2 separate regions of the Homo sapiens genome follow, and region 2 is linked to region 1. Evidence: fine-mapped expression QTL. A gene starts in region 1. The other region holds a variant in brackets. All regions are shown on one strand. Distances are from middle to middle. Region 1 holds the start of ATXN2L (ataxin 2 like). Region 2 overlaps RABEP2 (rabaptin, RAB GTPase binding effector protein 2).

Region 1 (5,512 bases):
CAGTAAGATTTTTCTATTTTTTTTGAGACAGGGTCTCCCTCTGTTGCCCAGGCTGGGGTGCAGTGGCGTGATCTCAGTTCACTGTAGCCTCAACCTCCAAGGCTCAAGTGATCTTCCTGCCTCAGCCTCCCGAGTGGCTGAGACTATAGGTACGAACCACCACTCCTGGCTTTTTTTTTTTTTAATTTTTAGTAGAGATGGGATTTCCCATCTGTGTTGCCCAGGCTGGTATCGATCTCCTTGGGCTCAAGGGATCCTCCCACCTTTGCCTCCTAAAGTGCTGGCATTACAGGCGTGAGCCACTGCGCCCGGCCAATAAATAAGATTTTCAAACTGTCACCTTGTAGAGGAAGAAAAAAATAGACATTAATAAGCCAGCAAACACATTTCCTCCAAATGCCAGCAAAAAGATCTCAATCAACAATGGTTGTCAATTGCTCTAAGAACCAACGAGAAAGGGGCTAGGGCTGCAGGCTACCAACAGATCAATGCTACAGTATTAACCAAAAAGCCACGCCAGCTGTGAGGGCAAAAGCTCCAGGAGTGCAGCTTTGGAACTACCTAGCTCAGGTACATTACCTCCCAAACAGAAAAGACAATCATTTTCAGCAGCCTGACGCCTCAAAACTGTGGGAGGAGGGGTATCCCCTCCACACCCCATCCCCTCGACCTCATGACTCATTCAGCCCGTTACCCACTCTGCGGGGATCACCAATCGCCAGGTAACCCTGCTCGTCGCTGGCTGATGTAACCGGCGGTTGAGGGCGAAGAGGGGGCCGCTGGCGGGGCTGGGGGACAGCGCAGCCGCAAAAGCCATCCACCGGGAGGCCTCGCCCGGTCTGCGCCTGCGCACTAAAACCCACGGGACTTTCCGAACCCCCACCTCCAGCGATCAGAGCCCACTGCGCCTGCGTGTGCTGCCACTCTTAATTCCATTAACACACACACACTCGCACAGGAAAAACTGAGCAGGGCCTCCACTACTCATGCACTGCCACCAGACGAGCCCCTCCACGAACTAGTCCCTGCCCTAGGTGTTCCCGGGGCGCGCGAATGCCCGGGTCATGAGACCGAGCATCCACGCGCACGTACGGGAAGGGGGCGCGCGCGCCAGAGGCTCCCGGCCCGCAGTCCTCCCAGTCATCCCTCCTTCCGTCCCCCCGCCCACCTCGCTCCCCTCCTACTGGCCAGACCGGGAAGGGGGAGGCAGCAACCCGCTCCCAAGTCCCTCCCTCCCCATTGGCCAAACTGTGGGCCGCGCGCCCCCCTCCATTGGCTACGGCCGGGGACCCCTTCCCGCAGCAGACTCCCCATTGGCTGAAGCCGGGGACCGCGAGACCCTTCGTGGTAATGGAACCGGGGACCCCGATCAGCTCCTTGCCCCCCCCCAACTCCCCGTTCCGACGGCGCCGGCGGGATGCGCCCCGCCTCCCCTGAAGGCCGGGGCTGCGAGCCCTGACTAGGCCCCGAGAGCCGAGCGCGGCCCCTCAGTGCTCCGGTGGCCGCCCGGGGACCCTTTCCGTCCGACCTGTTCGGACCTGAGGGGGCCCTCCCCCAGCTTCACGGGGACTCCCCACCCAGCCGGTGCCCCTGACGGTGCCGGGTCGGGGTCCGCCCCACCGGAACCGAGCCACAGCCTCTGGGTGGCCGCGGCTCCCTCGCCCGGAGCCCACCCTTCTCACCTGGCGCTGCCGATGGCGGCTGCCCCCGGCCTCTCCTGGTGTTGCTGCGGCGGCGGCGGCTGCGGCGCCAAGATGCCTTCGGCTCCCCGGCGGAGCCCGCTCCCGGCAGCGGCCACAGGCCCCAGGCAGGGGGAGGCGGCCGCTGGAGGCCCGGGAGGAGCCGCAGAGGTGGCCAGCGGCCCCGGGAGGCCGCCGTTGGGAGGGCTGGTGCCCCCGGGGGGCCGACGGGCCACGGCCTGTTGCGTGGGGGGCGGCTGCTGGGGCTGGGAGGGCTGTTGTAGCGGCTGAGGCTTCAACATGATGGCAGCGTCCGGAAGGGGAATTAGAGAGAAGGGAGGGAGAGAGGGGGCCGGGGCTGGGGCCCCGCTGGAGAGCGCGGGAAGCGAGGGGGATCGGGCAGCCGGGGCCCGCCGTGGGCGGGCGGGGGGAGCCCCGCGGTGTCGGGGGTGGAGAGAGAAGACCGCGGCGCGAGGAAGCGCCGCGAGGCGGAAGGGGAGGGGGTCTCGCGGCTGGAGGAAAGCGAGAGGGCGCGAGCCGGGCTGGCGCGCGTGCGCGTCGCCGGGGAGCGGAGAGGGAGGAGCGCGCGGGTGGGAGCTCCCGGGGGGGGGGGGGGGGGGGGGGGGCCAGGAGCGAGCAGTGGCGCGAGGTGCCGCGCACACCGGCGCGGTTAGCTCCCGGCGGGAAAGTGGGAGAGAATCAAGTCGGTGAACCTCGCACCCCTAGCCCTGGGAGTGGGTAAGGAGCGGCGCGGGCGCTCACGCGCGCCAAGGATTTAGGGTCTTAAGGTCTCAAACCGCCTTAGAAGCCGGCGGCCGCTGTCGCTTCACAATGAGCGTGTGAGGCGCAGGGGGAGGAGCCGAAGGCGCCAGAGGAAGGGCCGGCCTCTCCGCCCACGCCGTCGCTGCGTCGCGATGCCTCCGCGGGAGTGTGAGGCGGCACGTCGTGCGTGAGGCTCTTCCGCCACTTGGCGGCCCGTGGGCAGAGCCTTAAGTGCCAAGAAAGTCTCCGGGACTGGACCACCCGAGCCACTGCGCTTTTAGGCAGGTGGTAGGTTTCGCAAGGAGCTACCCTCCACCTTGTTTGCTTTAAGTAAAAGACTGATGAGCATTAGTGATTCGTTTGAGCGTGTTGATCTTTGCAGATAAATTTACGCCTCGTCCTAAATTATTTCAGATTTTTGTGATTTTGACCTAAATTGTTCCTCCATGCCCGAGAATGAATCTTTAAACTGTAATAACAAAGACTGAAGGCCAAAGTTCCGAGTTCAAAATCCTCCACCCGACCCTGCAATGAAGGCAGCTTCATTCATTCAAAATGAGTTGGGCATTGGAGTATTCAGTTAGTTGTTTTGGACACAAGGATAATTAAACTGCTTCCTGCTCTGGAGGAGTTCATGCTAGTGGTGAATTCAGAGAATTTGACGAGATCTAGTAGGTGAAGCACAGAGGACTACAAGAGCAAATGGGAGTGACACCTAATCTTAATCCAGTTTTGGGAGACCCAGATAAGGGACAGGAGGGCCGGGCGCAGTGGCTCATACCTGTAATCCTAACATTTTGGGAGTCCGAGGCAGAAGGATCGTTTAAGGCCAGGAGTTTGAGACCAGCCTAGGCAACAAAGTGAGACTTTGTCTCTACAAAAAAAAAAAAATTTAAATTATAAAAAAAAACTGATAAGAGGGCAGGGGGAGATGGGTTTCTAGGCAGGGAAATAGGATATGACAAACTAAGAAAAACTCAGCTTGTCCTAAGCATAAAATTAAAGGGGGGAAGAGGTAGCTAATCTGGGATCAGGTTTTAAAGGCTCCCAAGTCTTGTAAGAGACACGGACATTATCCTCAAAGCAGTGGGGAGCTTATTTAAGAAAGTGAAAAGAGGCTGGGCATGGTCTGTAATCCCAGTACTTTGGGAGGTTTGAGGTCAGGAGTTTGAGATCAGCCTGGCCAACATGGTGAAACCCTGTCTCTACTAAAAATGCAAAAATTAGCTAGGCGTGGTGGTGCATGCCTGTAATCCCAGCTACTCAGGAGGCTGAGGCAGGAGAATCACTTGAACCAAGGAGGCGGAGGTTGCCGTGAGCCCAGATCGCACCACTGCACTCCAGCCTGGGTGACAGAGCAAGACTCCTTCCCCCCAAAACAAACAAAAAAACAAGTGAAAAGAGGTCAGATTTGCATTTTTAAAGGTTTACTCTTTGCAACGTGGAGAATGGAGTGGAGCTGTTAAGTCCATGTGGTCTTAATCCCAGCGAAACTCTCAATGTCTCAATCTCTTCGCTCTAAATGTTAGCATTGGAACTCTTCCCAGCCCCTGCACCAAACACATGCACACCTAGCTACAACACTGCCTTACTTTTTGGGTAATAGTCCTTCGCCCTGCCTCGCTCCTGCCTTCAGATGTGCTAGTTTCCCCTCCTGTGTGCTCGCCGAGCAATTTATCCCACTGTATTCTAACAGCTCCTTTAATTCTGTCTTCCTGCTAATGTCAGCTCCCTAAGGGTTAGGATCTTGACTTATTTCTTGCTCTGCAGTACTCTAGCACACTGCAGGCACTCAATGAAATATCTGTAAGGTGAGTGGATCCAAATGATGTTTTTTTGTTTGTTTTTGAGATGGAGTTTTGTTCTTATTGCCCAGGCTGGAGTGCAATGGCGCGATCTCGGCTCACCACAACCTCCGCCTCCCGGGTTCAAGCGTTTCTCCTGCCTCAGCCTCTTGAGTACCTGGGATTACAGTCATGCACCACCACACCCGGCTAATTTTGTATTTTTAGTGGAGACGGGGTTTCTCCATGTTGGTCAGGCTGATCTTGAACTCCCGACCTCAGGTGATCCACCCGCCTCGACCTCCGAAAGTGCTGGGATTACAGGCATGAGCCACCACGCCCAGCCCAAATGGTGTTTTAAAGGTCATCATGTCTCCTGGGTTCCCTAACAAACACAGTCCAGCTTTTTCCTGGCATTACCTGGACCACCTGATGCCATGCCACCTCTCTACCCTCATTGACAGATTGTGAGCACTGAGCACTCTAACCCCCTTCCATCTACCCCATCCTGCTCCACACTCAAATTCTGAGTTTTAGCCCCATGAAACTTCTTTCTCCATAGCTTGCCTTGCCCTTGCTAGTGGCAGCTAATTTGCATGGGGTCTACAGCAACCTCAATTCTTGCCTCCTCAGAAGAAAGAATTCCACCAAGGGGCATAAGGCAGAGGGAGAGACAGAGGCAAGTTTTAGAGCAGGAGTGAACGTTTATTAAAAAGTTTTAGAGCAGGAATGAAAGGAAGTAAAGTACACTTGGAAGAGGGCCAGGCGTGAATGACTTGACAGATTCAAGTCCCTGGTTTGACCTTTGACTTGGGGTTTCATATGCTGGCATGCTTCCAGGGATTTACGGTTTGCATCTCTTCTCCCCTGATTCCTACCTTGGCATGGGCTGTCCACATGCACGGTGGCCTGCCAGCACTTGGAGGGGCCACAAGCACAGTGTGTTCAGTATACTGAAGTGCACATGCTCACTTAAGACGTTCTTCCCTTACAGATCTAGCATTCCTGGAGGAAGGGCATGTACCATTAAACTCCGCCATTTTGCCTCTTGGTGCATAAGCTTGAGCCCATTTACCCAACTTCTGAGATCTTATCGAGAAGCTGCTGATCATCAGTTTCAAGTGTTTTCCATCTATTTGGAGACTGCCTTTCCCTGGTGCTGGCTGCAACCAATTACTATTTTAGAGACAAGTTTAACAACCACCTGACCATCACCTGATGGTTGCCTAACATTCCTGGTGGTGGGGTTGGGGCAGCACTCCTGCCCCAACAATGGGAATGTTGTCT
Region 2 (5,000 bases), 88 kb before region 1:
AGAATGCTGGAGCCCAGGAGTTTGAGACCAGCCTGGGCAACATGATGAAACCCTGTCCTACAAAAAAACACAAAAAAGTAGCTGGGCACAGTGGCACATGCCTATGATCCAGGCTACTTCGAGAGGTTGAGATGAGAGGATTGCTTGAGCCCAGGAGGTCGATGCTGCAGTGAGCTGAGATCGTGCGCCACTGCACTCCAGCCTGGGTCACAGAGTGAGACCCCATCTCAAAAAAAAAAAAAAAAAAAAGAAAGAAAGAAAGCTTACTTGGGGCTGTGTTGGGGTAGGGGACACAGGAGAAGCTGAGAGGCTGGGACTGTGGTGTACAGGAAGGTGGTACCTTGGACCAGGGGATGGCCGCAGAGACAGGAAGAAATGGGTGGATGTGGAATCCACTTTTTTTTTTTTTGAGATGGAGTCTCGCTGTGTCACCCAGGCTGGAGTGCAGTGGTGTGGTTCTCGGCTCACTGCTAGCTCCACCTACCGGGTTCATGCCATACTCCTGCCTCAGCCTTCCGAGTAGCTGGGACTACAGGCGCCTGCCACCACACCTGGCTAATTTTTTGTGTTTATAGTAGAGACGGGGTTTCACCATGTTAGCCAGGATGGTCTCGATCTCCTGACCTCGTGATCCGCCCACCTCGGCCTCCCAAAGTGCTGGGATTACAGGTGCGAGCCACCATGCCCGGCTGGAATCCACTTTTTTTAAGATGGAGTCCTGTCCTGTCACCCAGGCTGGAGTGCAGTGGCCTGATCTTGGCTCACTGCAACCTCTGTCTTTCAGGTTCAAGCGATTCTCCTGCCTCAGCCTCCCCAGTAGCTGGGATTACAGGGGCCCGCCACCACGTCCAACTACTTTTTTTGTATTTTTAGTAGAGACAAGGTTTCACCATATTGGTCAGGCTGGTCTTGAACTCCTGACCACCCACCTCAGCCTCCCAAAGTGGTGGGATTATAGGCATGAGCCACCATGCCTGGCCCTGTTTTTTTTTTTTTTTTCTCTTTTTTGAGACGGAATCTCACTCACGGCAACCTCTGCTCACTGCTCACTGCAACCTCTGCTTCCTGGGTTTAAGTGAATCTCCTGCCTCAGTTTCCCGAGTAGCTGAGATTACAGGTGTCCCGCCACCACGCCCGGCTAATTTTTTGTATTTTTAGTAGAGACAGGGTTTTACCATGTTGGCCAGGCTGGTTTTGAACTCCTGACCTCAAATGATCCACCCGCCTCGGCCTTCCAAAGTGCTGGGATTACAGGCGTGACCCCACTCCACCCAGTCCTGTGGAATCCACTTTGGAGGTGGACCTGGCAGGGCCTGCTGATGGGTGGGGAGTGAAGGGAAGAGAATGGATGGCTGGGCCTGTAATTTGACGGACTGTGTGGATGAGGGCACCTCCCTGCAGAGGTGGGCCACGAGAAGTGTGGTGAGGGGGGCCAAGTTCCTGGGAGATGCAGGCTGAAGGCAGGGTCTGTGGCAGGGCCGACAGCTGCAGAAGGACCTGGAGAGCGTCAGTCGCGAGCGGGACGAGCTCCAAGAGGGCCTGAGACGGAGCAATGAGGACTGTGCCAAGCAGGTGGGTCCCTGCCGCTGCTGCAGCCCCAGCCGGCCTCTGGCTACCTGCCGCCCCCTGACATGCCCTTGCCCTCACTTTCGCCCTCCCTCCAACCCAGATGCAGGTGCTCCTGGCCCAGGTCCAGAACTCAGAGCAGCTGCTGCGGACCCTGCAAGGGACCGTGAGCCAGGCCCAGGAGCGGGTGCAGCTGCAGATGGTGAGTACCTGGGGGCCCTAGGGCAGGAGGGCGAGGAGTCCAGCAGGAATCAGTTGCACGTGGTGGAAGGGGGCACGTGGGAAGTCAAGGAACCTGTCCTGTCCCCAGCTGCTCAGGCCACACCCTGGAACCGGTGCCAGGTAGGTAAGAGGGTTTTGGGGCAGCTGGTGCCGTGGCCAGAACAGGGCCCCTGCAGCCACACAGAGCTGTTTGATCTTGAGCTAATCCCAGACTCCCAGCCTCTGCCTCACCATCTATAAAACTGACATAATGGGCCCTAGTTTGCAGAGTCATGAGGATTAAAATCAAATCTGACTGGGCGAGGTGACTCATACCTGTAAT[C/T]CTAGCACTTTGGGAGGCCTAGGCGGTTGGATCACCTGAGGTCAGGAGTTCGAGCCTAGCCAACACAGGGAAACCCCATCTCTACTAAGAATACAAAAATTAGCCGGGCATGGTGGTGGGCGCCTATAATCCCAGCTACTTGGCTGGGCAGGATAATCGCTTGAACCCAGGGGACAGAGGTTGTAGTGAGCCGAGATCACGCCATTGCACTTCAGCCTGGGTGAAAGCAAAACTGTCTCAAAGAAAAAAAAAAAAAAAAAGCAAATCAGATACTGACAAAGACTGGGGAGGAGACATACGTGATTGAACAGGGCCAGGTGTAGGGCAGGAGGGTAGGAGGGCAGTAGGCGGCCTGGAACCAGAGGCCCCTGCAAGGGGCTCCTGCCTCTGGGCTTTGCTGACTGTGGCCACCTAGGAACACAGGTTCCCTGCTGCCAGATTTTCTGATTTTTCAAGAGAAACCAAAAATATGAATATTTGTGTATTGTCTCCTATTTTTTTTTTTTTTTTTTTTTTTGAGACGGAGTCTCGCTCTTTCACCCAGGCTGGAGTGCAGTGGCACGATCTCGGCTCACTGCAAGCTCTGCCTCCCAGATTCACGCCATTCTCCTGCCTCAGCCTCCCGAGTAGCTGAGACTACAGGTGCCTGCCACCACGCCCGGTTAATATTTTTTTTTGTATTTTTAGTAGAGACGGGGTTTCACCGTGTTAGCCAGGATGGTCTCGATCTCCTGACCTCGTGATCCACCCGTCTCGGCCTCCCAAAGTGCTGGGATTACAGGCGTAAGCCACTGAGCCCGGCCTCCTGTTTTTTTTTTTTTAAGAAATGGTGTGTTGCTCTGTCGCTCAGGCTGGCCAGGCTGGAGTGCAGTGGTGCAATCAGAGCTCACTGAAGCCTCAACTTTCTGGGCTCAAGCAATCCTGCAGCCTCACCCTCCTGAGTAGCTGGGACTACAGGCTCACACCACCATGCCCAGCTAATTTGTAAATTTTTTTGTAGAGTCGGGGTCTCACTATGTTGCCCAGGCTGGTCTCAAACTCCTGGCCTCAAGTGACCCTCCCACCTTGGCCTCCCCCATAGCCAGGGTTATAGGTGTGTGGCACCACGCCTGGCTTGTCTCTTAATTTTTAGAATTGGCAACTACTTTAAGGTTTTAAAAATATATATGGGCCGGGCACGGTGGCTCACACCTGTAATCCCAGCACTTTGGGAGGCCAAGACAGGTGGATCATCTGAGGTCAAGAGTTTGAGACCAACCTGACCAACATGGTGAAACCCCGTCTCTACTAAAAGTACAAATATTAGCCAGGCGTGATGGTGGGCGCCTGTAATTCCAGCTACTTGGGAGGCTGAGGCAGGAGAATCGCTTGAACCCGGGAGGCGGAGGTTGCAGTGAGCCGAGATCACTCTATTGCACTCCAGCCTGAGTGACAGAGGGAGACTCTGTCTCAAAAAAATATATATTTTTTAAAATTTAAATTTATATATATTTAAATATTTGTGTGTGTGTGTGTGTATGTGTATATATATATATATATATATATAGACCAAGTAAAATATCTGGCTTGGGCCCTGGCAGCAGCCTGTAATCTGCGTGTTAGCAGGGACAGAGGTGTCTGAAGAGCTTGGTAGCAAAAAGTGCTCCTTCCTTGCTTAGGAACAGAGAGGGTATGGGCTCTCTTGCTGTCAGTCTGGGAGGAGGGTTCAAGGAGGTTTGGCCTCCTAGGGACTGGAGACGCCCTGTCCTCTTCATTGCCTTATACTAACTGTCTGTCCATAGGCGGAGCTGGTCACCACCCACAAGTGCCTGCACCATGAGGTAAAGCGGTTGAATGAGGAAAACCAAGGGCTCCGGGCCGAGCAGCTGCCATCCTCAGCCCCCCAGGGCTCGCAGCAGGAGCAGGGCGAGGAGGAATCACTGCCCAGCTCTGTGCCAGTAAGCTGAGTGTGGGCACTGAGAGCCTGGAGCCACCGTGAGGGCCCCTTCTTCCCAGGCAGGGCAGAGCGTTGGTCACGACCAGCCAGGGTGCTGTGTATTTGCTTGGCTAACTCATTTGCCTTCTCTAAGGCTCAGTTTCCTCATCTGAGAAATGGAACCATACATGCTTTCCAGCATTGGCATCAAAAGAAAATGAATTAACAGAATGCTTGGCAGGAAGGAAGCAGTCATTTGGTTGGTTTGCTATTTTTAAGTGACACGCGAGCCACAAGATTGAATTTATCATAATCTTTGGTTTATAGCAAGCTGCCATCATGGATCTATGCCTAGCCTTTGTCAACTTTTTCTTAATAATATGGCTTATTAGCCAGGCGCGATGGCTCACACCTGTAATCCTAGCACTTTGAGAAGCTGAGGCGGGCGGATCACTTGAGGTCAGGAATTTGAGACCAGCCTGGCCAACGGTAAAACCCTGTCTCTACTAAAAATACAAAAAAATTAGTCAGGGCTAGGCGCGGTGGCTCACGCCTGTAATCCCAGCACTTTGGGAGGCCAAGGTGGGTGGATCACCTGAGGTCAGGAGTTTGAGACCAGCCTGCCCAACATGGCAAAACCCCATCTCTACTAAAAATACAAAAATTAGCCTGGTGTGGTGGCGGGCACCTGTAATCCCAGCTACTCGGTAGGCTGAGGCTGGAGAATCGATTGAACCCAGGAGGCGGAGGTTGCAGTGAGCCGAAATCGCGCCATTGCACTCCAGCCTGGGTAACGAGTGAAACTCTGTCTCAAAAGAAAAAGAACATTAGTTGGGTGTGGTGGCTCGTGCCTGTAATCCCAGCTACTTGGGAGGCTAAGGCAGAAGAATCACTTGGCCTGGGAGCCAGAAGTTGCAGTGAGCCAAGATCGCGCCACTGCACTCTAGCCTTGGCGAGAGAGCAAGGCTCCATCTC

Evidence for each region. PIP is the estimated chance that this variant, and not a neighbour inherited with it, causes the effect.
Region 2: its variant is fine-mapped to the expression of ATXN2L in whole blood (INTERVAL, PIP above 0.99).

What each region holds. Positions count from the first base shown.
Region 1 is chr16:28,819,729-28,825,240 of GRCh38, reverse strand. It overlaps ATXN2L (ataxin 2 like), which reads right to left and starts at 2,242. Exons shown (of 22, transcript NM_007245.4): 1 at 1,683-2,242. The coding sequence starts at 1,981. It overlaps LOC124903672 (a long non-coding RNA gene), which reads left to right and starts at 1,199. Exons shown (of 2, transcript XR_007065042.1): 1 at 1,199-1,347; 2 at 5,220-5,512. RefSeq lists a silencer at 1,036-2,185 and enhancers at 2,506-2,715, 2,227-2,963.
Region 2 is chr16:28,907,656-28,912,655 of GRCh38, reverse strand. It overlaps RABEP2 (rabaptin, RAB GTPase binding effector protein 2), which reads left to right. Exons shown (of 13, transcript NM_024816.3): 6 at 1,477-1,572; 7 at 1,670-1,768; 8 at 3,892-4,047. Among named protein-coding and RNA genes, the nearest start is that of RABEP2, 15 kb to the left of the region's middle. The variant C/T (reference allele first, on the strand shown) is at 2,111.